Homo sapiens: one gene and its partners. The protein of the gene in region 1 purifies or fractionates together with the protein of each later gene. This does not show direct contact. Each region holds a gene or a part of one and is shown on either strand. Other genes may lie near its edges.

Region 1 (3,654 bases):
TCTTCCCTTGTCTCAGTATCCATGAGCCTCTCTGGGTTTGAGCATTTCTCCACACTGAATATGGATTCTGTGTTTAACAATACGGTTTTTTGTCTGTTTGTACAAAACCTAAACACAAGAATCTAGTTGACCTAGTGCTTAGTCAAAGAAACGGTGATCTCTTTCAACACTGGAGGAAAATCATTAGTGTTGTATTTGCTGAAAGAAAGTGTATGGGCCTCCAAAACAATATACTCCTAGTAAGCATACAATATACTCCTTTGCAAGGTAAGTTTAAACACAATTTTTATGTTATAGGCTGACAATAGCAACTAACCTCCTCCTGAGATACAACCCCATTGCTGTACAGTATATTTTTCTGCAACAATCATGTGTTATTTTTGAGATATTAAAAATAAAAAAATAGTTAATTTGTTATATCTCTAGTCTACATTTGAAAATAAAAATCTAGATATACATACCTGTTTGCCAGTGAAACCCTGGCAAATAATCTTTGTATTTTTATCAACATAGAGATGTTGCCGAGAAGCTGTGTAGGAACAATGCCGAATTCCATTCTGCGGCACTAAGAGGTTAAAAAAAAAAAAAAAAAAAAAAAAAGACACATTATAATTTTTCTAAACTTTTGAACAATAATTCAACTTGATCACAAAAAAAAAATTCTTTAATGCACGCGCTATCCTGTGATCACGGCAAACCTAAATGCCACCTTTTAAATAAGACACAGTGACCACAGAAATAAGAAAAACAGACAAGACATTGTTCCATTCTCCAGGATCCTCTCTTTATCAAGAACCACGATCTTGTAGTTTTTTCCTGAACTGAGGGAAAAAAAAGCAATGTTTATCATTTTTATTTCCTAGAAAAAAACTGGGGCTCAAAGATAAATGGTTAAAATTAAATCCAGGGACTGAAAACAAAATGTCACCCCTATTAACAATGTTTACTAAACAGCCACGTTTCCCCACTTGACCCAAATTTTTAAAGCCTAATACCTTTAAATAGGTAAGCTAAGAGGCAAACTTTGTCAGGAATACAAGTAAAAATCACTCAGCAACTCATTCTCTAGTAAGAACAACATATTAAATGTTAAGTCATAGGATAAAACTTATCTAAAATATAATACAAAATCACTTAATCTCTTCTGATATGAACTCATGTATAAAAGACACAGGGAAAATAAAACAAATAGGAAAGTAGACAAGACAGGAAAAAGCTTGTTAGGAAAAAAAAAAAAAAAAAACCCTAGGTTATTGCAGCAACCTACCTAAAAGAGAAATTGAGAAATCTAAATAGTTACTACAACCAGCTCCCCACATTTCAAAACACAGTAGGAGGAACATAGATGACTTAAAATTTTGGGCTACCTTCTAAATGTCCATTAATACTAACAACCTGACTTCTCTGTGGCCCATCCCTGGCCCTTTCAAAGTAGCCAGGCCTTCTACCTATCATTGTGGTAGCCCATGAAGCTAGCCCAAGAAAAGAACATAAGGAGTAATCTCTATTGAACAACAAAAAAAGAACACCTGTCACATATTTGCCCAGAGTCCACTCCATGCTTTCTGCCTTAAATCACTGCCTCATACCCACCTAAGTCCTGACCTCACATTACATAACTGAAAGAGCAACAACATCTGCTTCTGGAGGAAGTATATGGAATCCCTTACACCTCTAGGGAGAAGACAGGCCCAGATTTAGCCCTTACCACCTGGATAATATTTGGTACACACAAAGAACTGCTACGTAACAGGCAGCTTTCTCATACTAGACTGTGCTCAACAAGGGGCCATGGGCTTTGCAGGTCAAGTTCTGGCACATCAGTCACAGCTAAGCATCTGACTCTAGGCCAGTGGACACAGCAGGGATTTATGGCCTGAGACCCTGTCCCTACTGAGCTGTGCAGCACAGCCCACCCTTGCCAGTGCTGCATTCGAGACCCATTCTTGCCCTTGGCTTCCACTTCTCCCAGCTGAACACCTACAACCATGGTATTTGTGTAGAAGCTACACCCTTTCCTACCCTGCTACAATTTCTGACTAGTGGAATTGGCTTTACCAGTCCCTCCCATTGCATCTTCAACAAATGCTCATATCATATCATATCATATCATACCATATGTTTTCAGACCAGAAGGTAGAAGATTTGATTATAAGATCAGATGTTATGATCAGGATATCTGGAGTCCCTACTTGTTAACATAAAATACTTTTTGTAGGTAAAGTTTGGTTCTGCACAAGTACTCTTATACTCACTAACTTAACAAAGATCAGACAATTCACTTCTCCTTCCACAGGAGCAGAAGTCACCCTGAGAAAAGGCAGGTCTGTCTGTGTCCCTAAAGCACAGCTCCAATAACAGACCAACGAAGATCTCTGCTTTCTCGTAGTAACTCCAGATCTCCTGGATCAATTCTATGGAGCTCAAGATTTTACAACATCAGATCTTTGGTGCTCATAAAAAGTGTATCAGAAGTGTGATAAACAGCAGCTTACCTCCCAATCCCCTAGCCTTTTAGTGTTACTCAGCCTGTGCAATGCCCCTGAGAGCCTGCAGCATCTAATTAACTAAATCTTGGGAAACCTCTAATGCACAGGTGTAGATGTGTGTGCGCTCATGCATGTGTGATCTCCCCATCTACACACCAGGCCTGGGCTCATACAGACCCACTTCTAGATAAGCTGGAACTAACAGACTATTATCGTCTTACAGGCAAATCCAAGAAATGTATTCAATGGCAAGGAAGTGAAATTCCTGATCACATTCCATCCTGACAATAAACCTGTATGATGCCAGACAAGGTTATCATCTGGTACTGAAATGTGAGTTCGTTCATTGATTCAATCAACATTTGAGGAGCACCCATACCAAGCCATAATGTCAGGTGTCAAGGATAAAGTGATGAATGACAGTGTCTCAGCCCTCAAATAATTCACAATCTATCTGAACTCATATAAAAGTGGGCCATAACTGCGTGGTGTGTGAAGTACTATAATAAAAAAAAAAAAAAGCCTTGGGCATTTGGGGTGGATAAACTCCCCACACCTATTCAAGGTAGAGAAGTCTATGAATGTGTAAGAGGTGGGGAGGGTGACAAAGCCACCAAATTACTACAGTAAGTGACTTCCTAAAGTGAAATTTAGAACACAAGGCATACATTGGTGGCCAAACCATCTTGCAAATATCTCTTACCTTTCAATTAAAGATTTAATGTCCTCAACTTTCTGAGAATTTCACTTACATTGATCCATATAAATTAACATTTAAATAAAACATTACACAGTCAAGAATTCCTATATCTTCACACGATATACATGATTTATGAGTATACTGGGGGACTTTAAAAGGGATCTGAGATTAAGAAGAATAGAAGCTACAAACGCTTTCATGTGGGTATACAATAAACACCATCACACACTACATTACTGAGTGCACACATATTCTTACTCTTTTCATCATGTTATTTTTAAGTGAAATTATCTAAGCTTAAATTTATTTCAAGACTATTTCAAGTACCATCTAAATACTTTTCCCACTGCTAACTGTAAACTCCATGAGTGTCAGGACCATGTCTTACTCATCTTGTCTCCTATGGTATATGGTCAGTGCCTTACACACAGTAGGTCTATGGGAAACATTTCACTGAATTCCAGG
Region 2 (3,654 bases), about 15 Mb from region 1:
CTTTAATTTTCTTTAATTTGGGAAATAGATATGATTTAAAATAATTTGAAGTGTGATGACTGTAATGTAGAGTTAGGGAAGTTTAAGGGGAGAGGGTATGTGTGTCTGCATGTGTGTATGTATGTAAATGTATACCTATATGTGTTATGGAGCTGTAAGCATATAAATTCAGCCTCTCCTTTCCATTGCTAGCTTGAACACATTCCTGTGGCCATACTCTGGCTGATTCTGGCTAAGGGCGTGAGTTAAATCAGGGTAGACCTTACCCCTTCTGTAGCCAGGGGCCAGAAGAGGAACACTTTCCTGCAGGCTTGCCTGACTGCTTGGATCACAGAATAGCTTAGATATAAATATTGTAAATACTGAGTAACTCAGCTGATTAAACCACTTTAATTGGACTTTTAAACTTTGTAGGACTGAAATATGTGGTCATATAGGCTTTTCAAATAGGAAACCCATTAATTTTAGTCATTGATATTGACTTTAAGCACCACTAATCTGTATTTTGGGGGAGTTTACATCTACCTCCTTAGGTACCTATTAGTACCAAGCATAATAGGAAAAAATAGGCTGGCATGGTGGCTCATGCCTATAATCCCAACACTTTGAGAGGCTGAGGCGGGCAGATCCCTTGAGCCCAAGAAGTTCAAGACCAGCCTCAGCAACATGGTCAAACCCTGTCTTTACAAAAAAATACAAAAATTATCTGGGCTTGGTGGTGCATGCCTGTAGTCCCAGCTACTCAGGAGGCTGAGGTGGGAGAATCACTTGAGCCTAGGAGGTTGAGGCTGCAGTGAGCTGTAATCATGCCACTGCACTTCAGCCTGGGCAGCAGAGTGAGACACTGTCTCAAAAAAAAAAAAAGGAAGAAATATTTTTTATCATTCTGTCCTGTTTCCTGTTGTAAGTCTCATGACATTTTCATGAGCATCTTTCTGGATGATGGACCTGGGAGTCATTTTTGAAATACAAAATTAAACCCAATTGAGATTATAATTGTAATGATTTTGTTAAGTACCTATTCAAATTAGGTGTTTTTTTTTGTTTGTTTTTGAGGCAGGGTCTCACTATGTTGCCCAGGCTAAAGTGCAGTGATGTGATCTTGGCTCACTGTAACCTCCGCCTCCTGGGCTCCAGCCATCCTCCCACCTCAGTCTCCCAAGTAGCTGGTACTACAGGTGCGTACCAACACACCCAGCTAATTTTCGTATTTTTTGTAGAGACGAGGTTTCACTACATTACCTAGGCTGGTCTTGAACTCCAGAGCTCAAGTAACCTGCCTGGCTCAGCCTCCCAAAGTGCTGGGATTATAGGCGTGAGCCACCGTGCCCAGCCTGAATTAGTTTTTTAGTAATAGCTTTATTTATTGTCAACAGTAAAAAGTTCTGTGATGATGTCATTCATTTTCATACTTTCTACTTTAGATAGTATAGAGTATATGCTCTTAAGTGACTTTTTATTTTGCATTTGTAGTTTTTACCCTCAAGGATTTCTAAAAATTTTGCTTTCTGCAGGTGTAGTTTTTCTCAAATTGATTGAGTAGAATAAAGCCAGATTTTTTTTTTTTGTCTTGGCTCACTGCATTTTCTACTGCCTGGGCTCAAGCAGTCCTCTTGCCTTAGCCTCCTATGTAGCTGGAATTATAGGCACATGCCACCACAGCTGACCAATTTTTGTATTTTTTTGTAGAGACAGGATCTCTGTTGCCCAGGCTGGTCTCGAACTTCTGCCCTCAAGTGATCCTCCTGCCTTGGCCTCCCAAAGTGCTGGGATTATAGGTGTGAGCTGATGCACCCAGTTGAAGCCAGATTTAATTTTTCAAATATTGGTAGAGTACTGTGTGCAGATTTTGGTTAGCAATAAATTATTAATACAAGCTGCAAGAAATGATTGGTTCAGAGCCAGAGTTAGAAGATTATTTACAGAAAGTGTTGGCAGCCCTTTCTTTAATGTGTCATTGAAAAATCATTCCCTTATAACACAGATTTTCAGAAGAATGTCTTACTAGAAATATACATATTTTAAATGAAGTACTTGGACATTGCGGCTATTTTTTCATTTTTTAGGAATTGTCTGGTTGTCTAATTAGAAAAAGGATTTAAACAAAATGTATGGGAGTTCACTTTCAATTTTTTTCTTTATCCATGAAATGGTTTAACTTCAGCTAGCTGGAACTGCATGGCAAAGTACAAAAATGGCTCTCAGTTGTCAAATTAGAACTTTTTCTGTAATGACTAAGAAAAGCATTTTTGTACCAACCATATGTTTTGCCAAATTTAAACTCTTTCAAATTTAAAATAAAACTGTTGCTTTTTGATATTCTATTCTCTCTCCTAAAATAGGTGATGTGAAAATTAGGACAGGAAGATTGATCTTAAATGTATTTTCCTATTATGCCTGGCAATGTTAGATAAGGATTAGCAATATGTACGGTGGCTAAGAAAGTCAGCACCTAGAAAATTGTCCAGCTTTGAATCCTGGCTCTGTCACTTAGTAGCTGAGTGACCTTTAGTCTCCTTATTATAAAATAAGATAAAAATAGTAAGTATTGAAAGTACTCATTGAAAGTATGTAAGGATTAAATGATATAATACATGTAAAGTGCTTAGCACCCTGCCCAGTGCATGATAGGCACTGAATAATTTTTTTTTTTTTGAGACAGAGTCTCACTATGTCTCGCAGGCTGGAGTGCGTGGTGGCTGGATCTTGGCTCACTGCAACCTCCCTCTCCTGGGTTCAAGCAATTCTCCTGCATCAGCCTTCTAGGTAGCTGGGATTACAGGCGCACATCACCACACCTGGCTAATTTTTGTATTTTTAGTAGACACAGGGTTTTACCATGTTGACCAGGCTGTTCTCGAACTCCTGACCTCAGGTGATCCGCCTGCCTTGGCCTCCCAAAGTGCTGGGGATTATAGGCATAACCCACTGCGCCCGGCCAGGCACTGAATAAATTTTAATTGTTATATAGTATTGTCAGTCTATTTAAATATACTGCTGTAAGATGGAGGATTTCTTTTTACTCAGAAGGTTCATTTTCTTTTTTCTTTTTTCTTTTTGAGACAGAGTCTTGCTCTGTTGCCCAGGCTGGACTGTAATGGCGCAATCTTGGTTCACTGCAGCCTCCACCTCCCAGGTTCAAGTGATTGTCCTGCCTCAGCCTCCTAAGTAGCTGGGATTACAGGAGCGCACTACCACGCCTGGCTAATTTTTGTATTTTTACAAATACCTCTACAAAATAACCCTACCTCTACAAAACCCCTGTAGAGACGGGGTTTCACCATGTTGGCCAGGCTGGTCCTGAACTCCTGACCTCAGGTGATCTGCCCACCTCGGCCTTCCAAAGTGCTGGGATTACAGGTGTGAGCCACCACACCTGGCCTTTTTTTTTTTTTTTTTTTTGAGACTGAGTGTCACTCTGTCACCCAGGCTGGAGTGCAGTGGCACATTCTTGGCTCACTGCAAGCTCCGCCTCCCATGTTCAAGTGATTCTCCTGCCTCAGCCTCCCAAGTAGCTGGGACTACGGACGCACACTACCACGCCTGGCTGACGTTTGTGTTTATAGTAGAGATGGGTTTTCACCATGTTGGCTAGGCTGGTTTCAAACTCCTGACCTTGTGATCCACCTGCCTTTACCTCCCAAAGTGCTGAGA
Region 3 (3,654 bases), on another chromosome or scaffold:
AACATCTGAAGACTTTCCCATGCATGCATGATCTTTCAGGAGCTCAATTACATGTCACTTTGCCCCTCCCTATATGCTTGGCCTAATCCCAGTTCGATGATTATGTGAAGTCCTGGTTTTGTCCAGGCTAACAGTCCCAATGATGTGGAGGGTTCTAGGGGCTGAAATTCAAGCAGGCAGTCAGGCCTGCTTTGATGCCTAGATTAGGAATAATTGGTGAAGAGTGCTGAATTACAGTGTAAGTTTAGACCTATAACTTAATTTCCACCTGTACAGTGGTATTAAACATGAGTTTTTATCTTAAAAAGACCACGCAGGTCATAATATGTGGATACTGGGGGGCTGAGTCACGAGAAGGGATTAAGATGGTAACATCAACACCCACATTAGTCTGGGCACATTATTCAAAGCAGGGAAGTGTCTTTCCTTTTGGTAGGGGTGACCATGTGGATGAAGTACTACCATTCAGAGTACAGGACAGAGAGGTTGCTGAGTATAGATGCCAAATGTTGGACCCTATATCTGAGGACATCTGAGTCCCGAATGATGTTCAAAAAGAGGCTTCGACAAATTCTAGTTAGTAGTAACTGGTCAAAAAAGGACTCTGCCACGTACCTGCCCAGATCTCTGAGGTTACATGAGGGGCCAGTGGAGCAGCCATTACCATCAGGGCACACAAAGCATCCTCAAACTCGGGGCTGTGGAGAATGACGCTCTGAGAGGCTTGCTAAGGAAGAGGAAAAAAAAGTAAGAAGACTGAGGTGTAAAAATAAGCACGGGTAAGAAAGACCATTAATGTATCTGAAGTCCAGAGACACAAGCTGGTAGGAAGAAACCCCCTTTGCCATCCATTTCTGCTTGGGACAATGAACTTCCCCTACTTAATGATAGCACTGAGATAAACTACAGCAAGCCAGGTGTGGTAGCTGACACTTATACTCCCACTACTTTGGGAGGCCAAGAATTTGAGACCAGCCTGGGCACTATAGTGAGACCTCATCTCTATGAAAAATTAAAAAATAAAAAAAAATTAGCCAGGCACAGTTGCACACACCTATAGTCCCAGTTACTTAGGAGGCTGAAGTGGGAGGATCACTTAAGACCAGGAGGTCAAGGCTGCAGTGAGCTATGACTGCACCACTGCACTGAAGCTTGGGCAACAGTGAGACCCTATCTTTAAAAAAAAAAAAAAGCTCCAGCAGCAGCAACAACAAATACATGATGTTAACTTATTTAGTCCTCACCACTCTTTGAGGGTGGTATTCTTACCCCATTGGACAGATGAAGCAGCTAAGGATCAGCAAGGGAGGGCAATCTGCCCCCAGGCACACTGTAGCCAAACTCTTACCCACTCTGCTAGGTTTCCTCTGTGCTGCAGGTCCACAGAGAAATGCACTGAGACCTGCTCAAAGGTGTTAAACTGTGAAACACCTAGGGCAGGGGGGCCTCTATACCCTACTTAGGGACCCCTATTCTCTGAAATACCTTTGGTCAATTCCGGCAAACATAGTTGTGTTTAGCTCTGTGTGTTATTATTAAGGACTTCCCAAATTCCGGAATGGAAAGACAGAAATTCATTACAGTTTCATTTCAGTGTCTTGCTTTATTTTTTCTGATTAAAAAACTAACACACACTCAGCACAGAATATACAGGAAATGAAAAACTACTCATAATTATACAACCTAGAAAAAAAGGTATATTTTATCCTTGTCTCCAAAAATGCAAAAATGTGTATATAAATGCTTATTACACATGTAACATTTTCAGGATTGGTATTCTTGCCATATGAACACTTCCTTTTTTTTAATTTTAAAAATTAATTTTTTTTTTAAATAGAGATGGGGTATCTCACTATATTGCTCAGGCTGGTCTCGAAATCCTGGGCTCAAGCCATCTGCCTGCCCTGGCCTCCCAAAATGCTAGGATTACATGTGTGAACCACTGCACCCAGCTCATATGAACACTTTTGTATCTTTTTTTTTTGAGACAGAGTCTCTCTCTGTTGCCCAGGCTGGAGTGCAGTGGTGTGATCTCAGCTCACTGCAACCTCTGCCTACAGGTTTAAGCAATCCTCCTGCCTCAGCCTCCTGAGTGCCTGGGACTACAGGTGCACAGGTGTGCACCACCACACCCTGGCTGATTTTTTGTATTTTTAGTAGAGACAGGGTTTCACCATGTTGAGCAGGTTGGTGTTGAACTCCTGACCTCAAGCGATCTATCTGCCTTGACCTCCCGCAGTGCTGGGATTACAGGCGTGAGCCACTGTGCCTGGCCTTGTGTCATGTGTTTTTACTTAACATTATATCATAAACAGTTTCTGATATTAAGTATTCTTCAAGACATGAGGTTAATGGTGGTGGCACATTCCTTTCTTATTGATATGACATAAGTCATTTCACAATTCCCCCATCAGAGGACACTGGGGTTCCGAGTCTCTGTGATTATAAATTATCTGCAGTGAACACTCCTGGATCAGAGGATATAACACAATCAACCTGATAGCCGAAGTGCTTCCTGGCAAGGTTACACCAACCACACCTATCACTGGCGTGTAAAAGTCTATTCTGCCATCTTTGCAATAGCATGGGGAATAATTATGCCTTTATTTTTATTTTTTTGAGAGAGAGTCTCGCTTTGTCACCCAGGCTAGAGTACAGTGGCACCAAACAGCTCACTGCAACCTCAAATTCCTGGGCTCAAGGGATCCTCCCGCCTCAGCCTCCTGAGTAGCTAGAACTACAGGTGCATGCCACCACACTTGGCTAATTTTTAAATTTTTTACAGATGAAGTCTTGTTATGTTGCCCAGGCTGGTCTCAAACTCCTGAGCTCAATCGATCCTGCTGCCTCGGCCTCCCAAAGTGCTGGAATTACAGGCATGAGCCACTGTGCCTGGCCCTGAATAGTTACGTTAAAGTATTCTCAGCAAATTTGACAGGTATTTAAAAAAAAACAAAAACAAAAACAAAAGCATCTTGTTTTAAATTTGCCTTTCATGATAATTAGAGAGGCAGACTTTTTTTTCTCCACAAATGTATTGGCTATTTCTATAACATTTTCTATGAGTTATTATCTTTTCATATGCTTTGACCATTTTTGGTTAGGTATTTTCATATTAATATGTAAGAGTGCTTTACAAGGATATTAACCTTCTGTCTGACATGTTATAAATTTTTTTAACATACTGAAAATGTCAAGTTTTATGTAGTCAAATTTGAAATTTCTTCCATTGTTCTTTTTTATCTTTATTTTACTTTTTAAAAATTACCCTTTTAATTTTATTTTTAGAGACAGAGTCTCCTGCTCTGTTGCCCAGGATGGGTTCAAGCGATCCTCTCGCCTCAGCTTCCCGAGTAGCTACAGCTACAGCTGTATGCCACCATGCCAGGCTAATTATTTTATTTTTTTACTTTGTTTTTGAGGCGGAGTCTTGCTTTGTCGCCCAGGCTGAAGTGCAGTGGCGTGATCTTGGCTCACTGCATGCTCCGCCACCTGGGTTCACACCATTCTCCTGCCTCAGCCTCCTGAGTAGCTGGGACTACTGGTGCCTGCCACCACGCCTGGCTAATTTTTTGTATTTTTTAGTAGAGATGGGGTTTCACTGTGTTAGCCAGGATGGTCTTGATCTCCTGACCTCGTGATCCGCCTGCCTCA

What was found.
Region 2: the proteins of SUCLG1 (region 1) and NFU1 fractionate together in Homo sapiens (co-fractionation; one large-scale study listed by BioGRID). This does not show direct contact.
Region 3: the proteins of SUCLG1 (region 1) and LARS2 purify together in Homo sapiens (affinity purification with mass spectrometry; 2 studies listed by BioGRID and IntAct, with this or other methods). This does not show direct contact.

Annotation. Positions count from the first base shown.
Region 1 is NC_000002.12:84,449,188-84,452,841, forward strand, and holds part of SUCLG1 (succinate--CoA ligase [ADP/GDP-forming] subunit alpha, mitochondrial precursor), read right to left. Parts: intron 566-3,654; coding exon 462-565; intron 1-461. UniProt on the Homo sapiens protein: Succinyl-CoA synthetase functions in the citric acid cycle (TCA), coupling the hydrolysis of succinyl-CoA to the synthesis of either ATP or GTP and thus represents the only step of substrate-level phosphorylation in the TCA.
Region 2 is NC_000002.12:69,427,428-69,431,081, reverse strand, and holds part of NFU1 (NFU1 iron-sulfur cluster scaffold homolog, mitochondrial), read left to right. Parts: intron 1-3,654. UniProt on the Homo sapiens protein: Iron-sulfur cluster scaffold protein which can assemble [4Fe-4S] clusters and deliver them to target proteins.
Region 3 is NC_000003.12:45,521,070-45,524,723, reverse strand, and holds part of LARS2 (leucine--tRNA ligase, mitochondrial), read right to left. Parts: intron 728-3,654; coding exon 616-727; intron 1-615.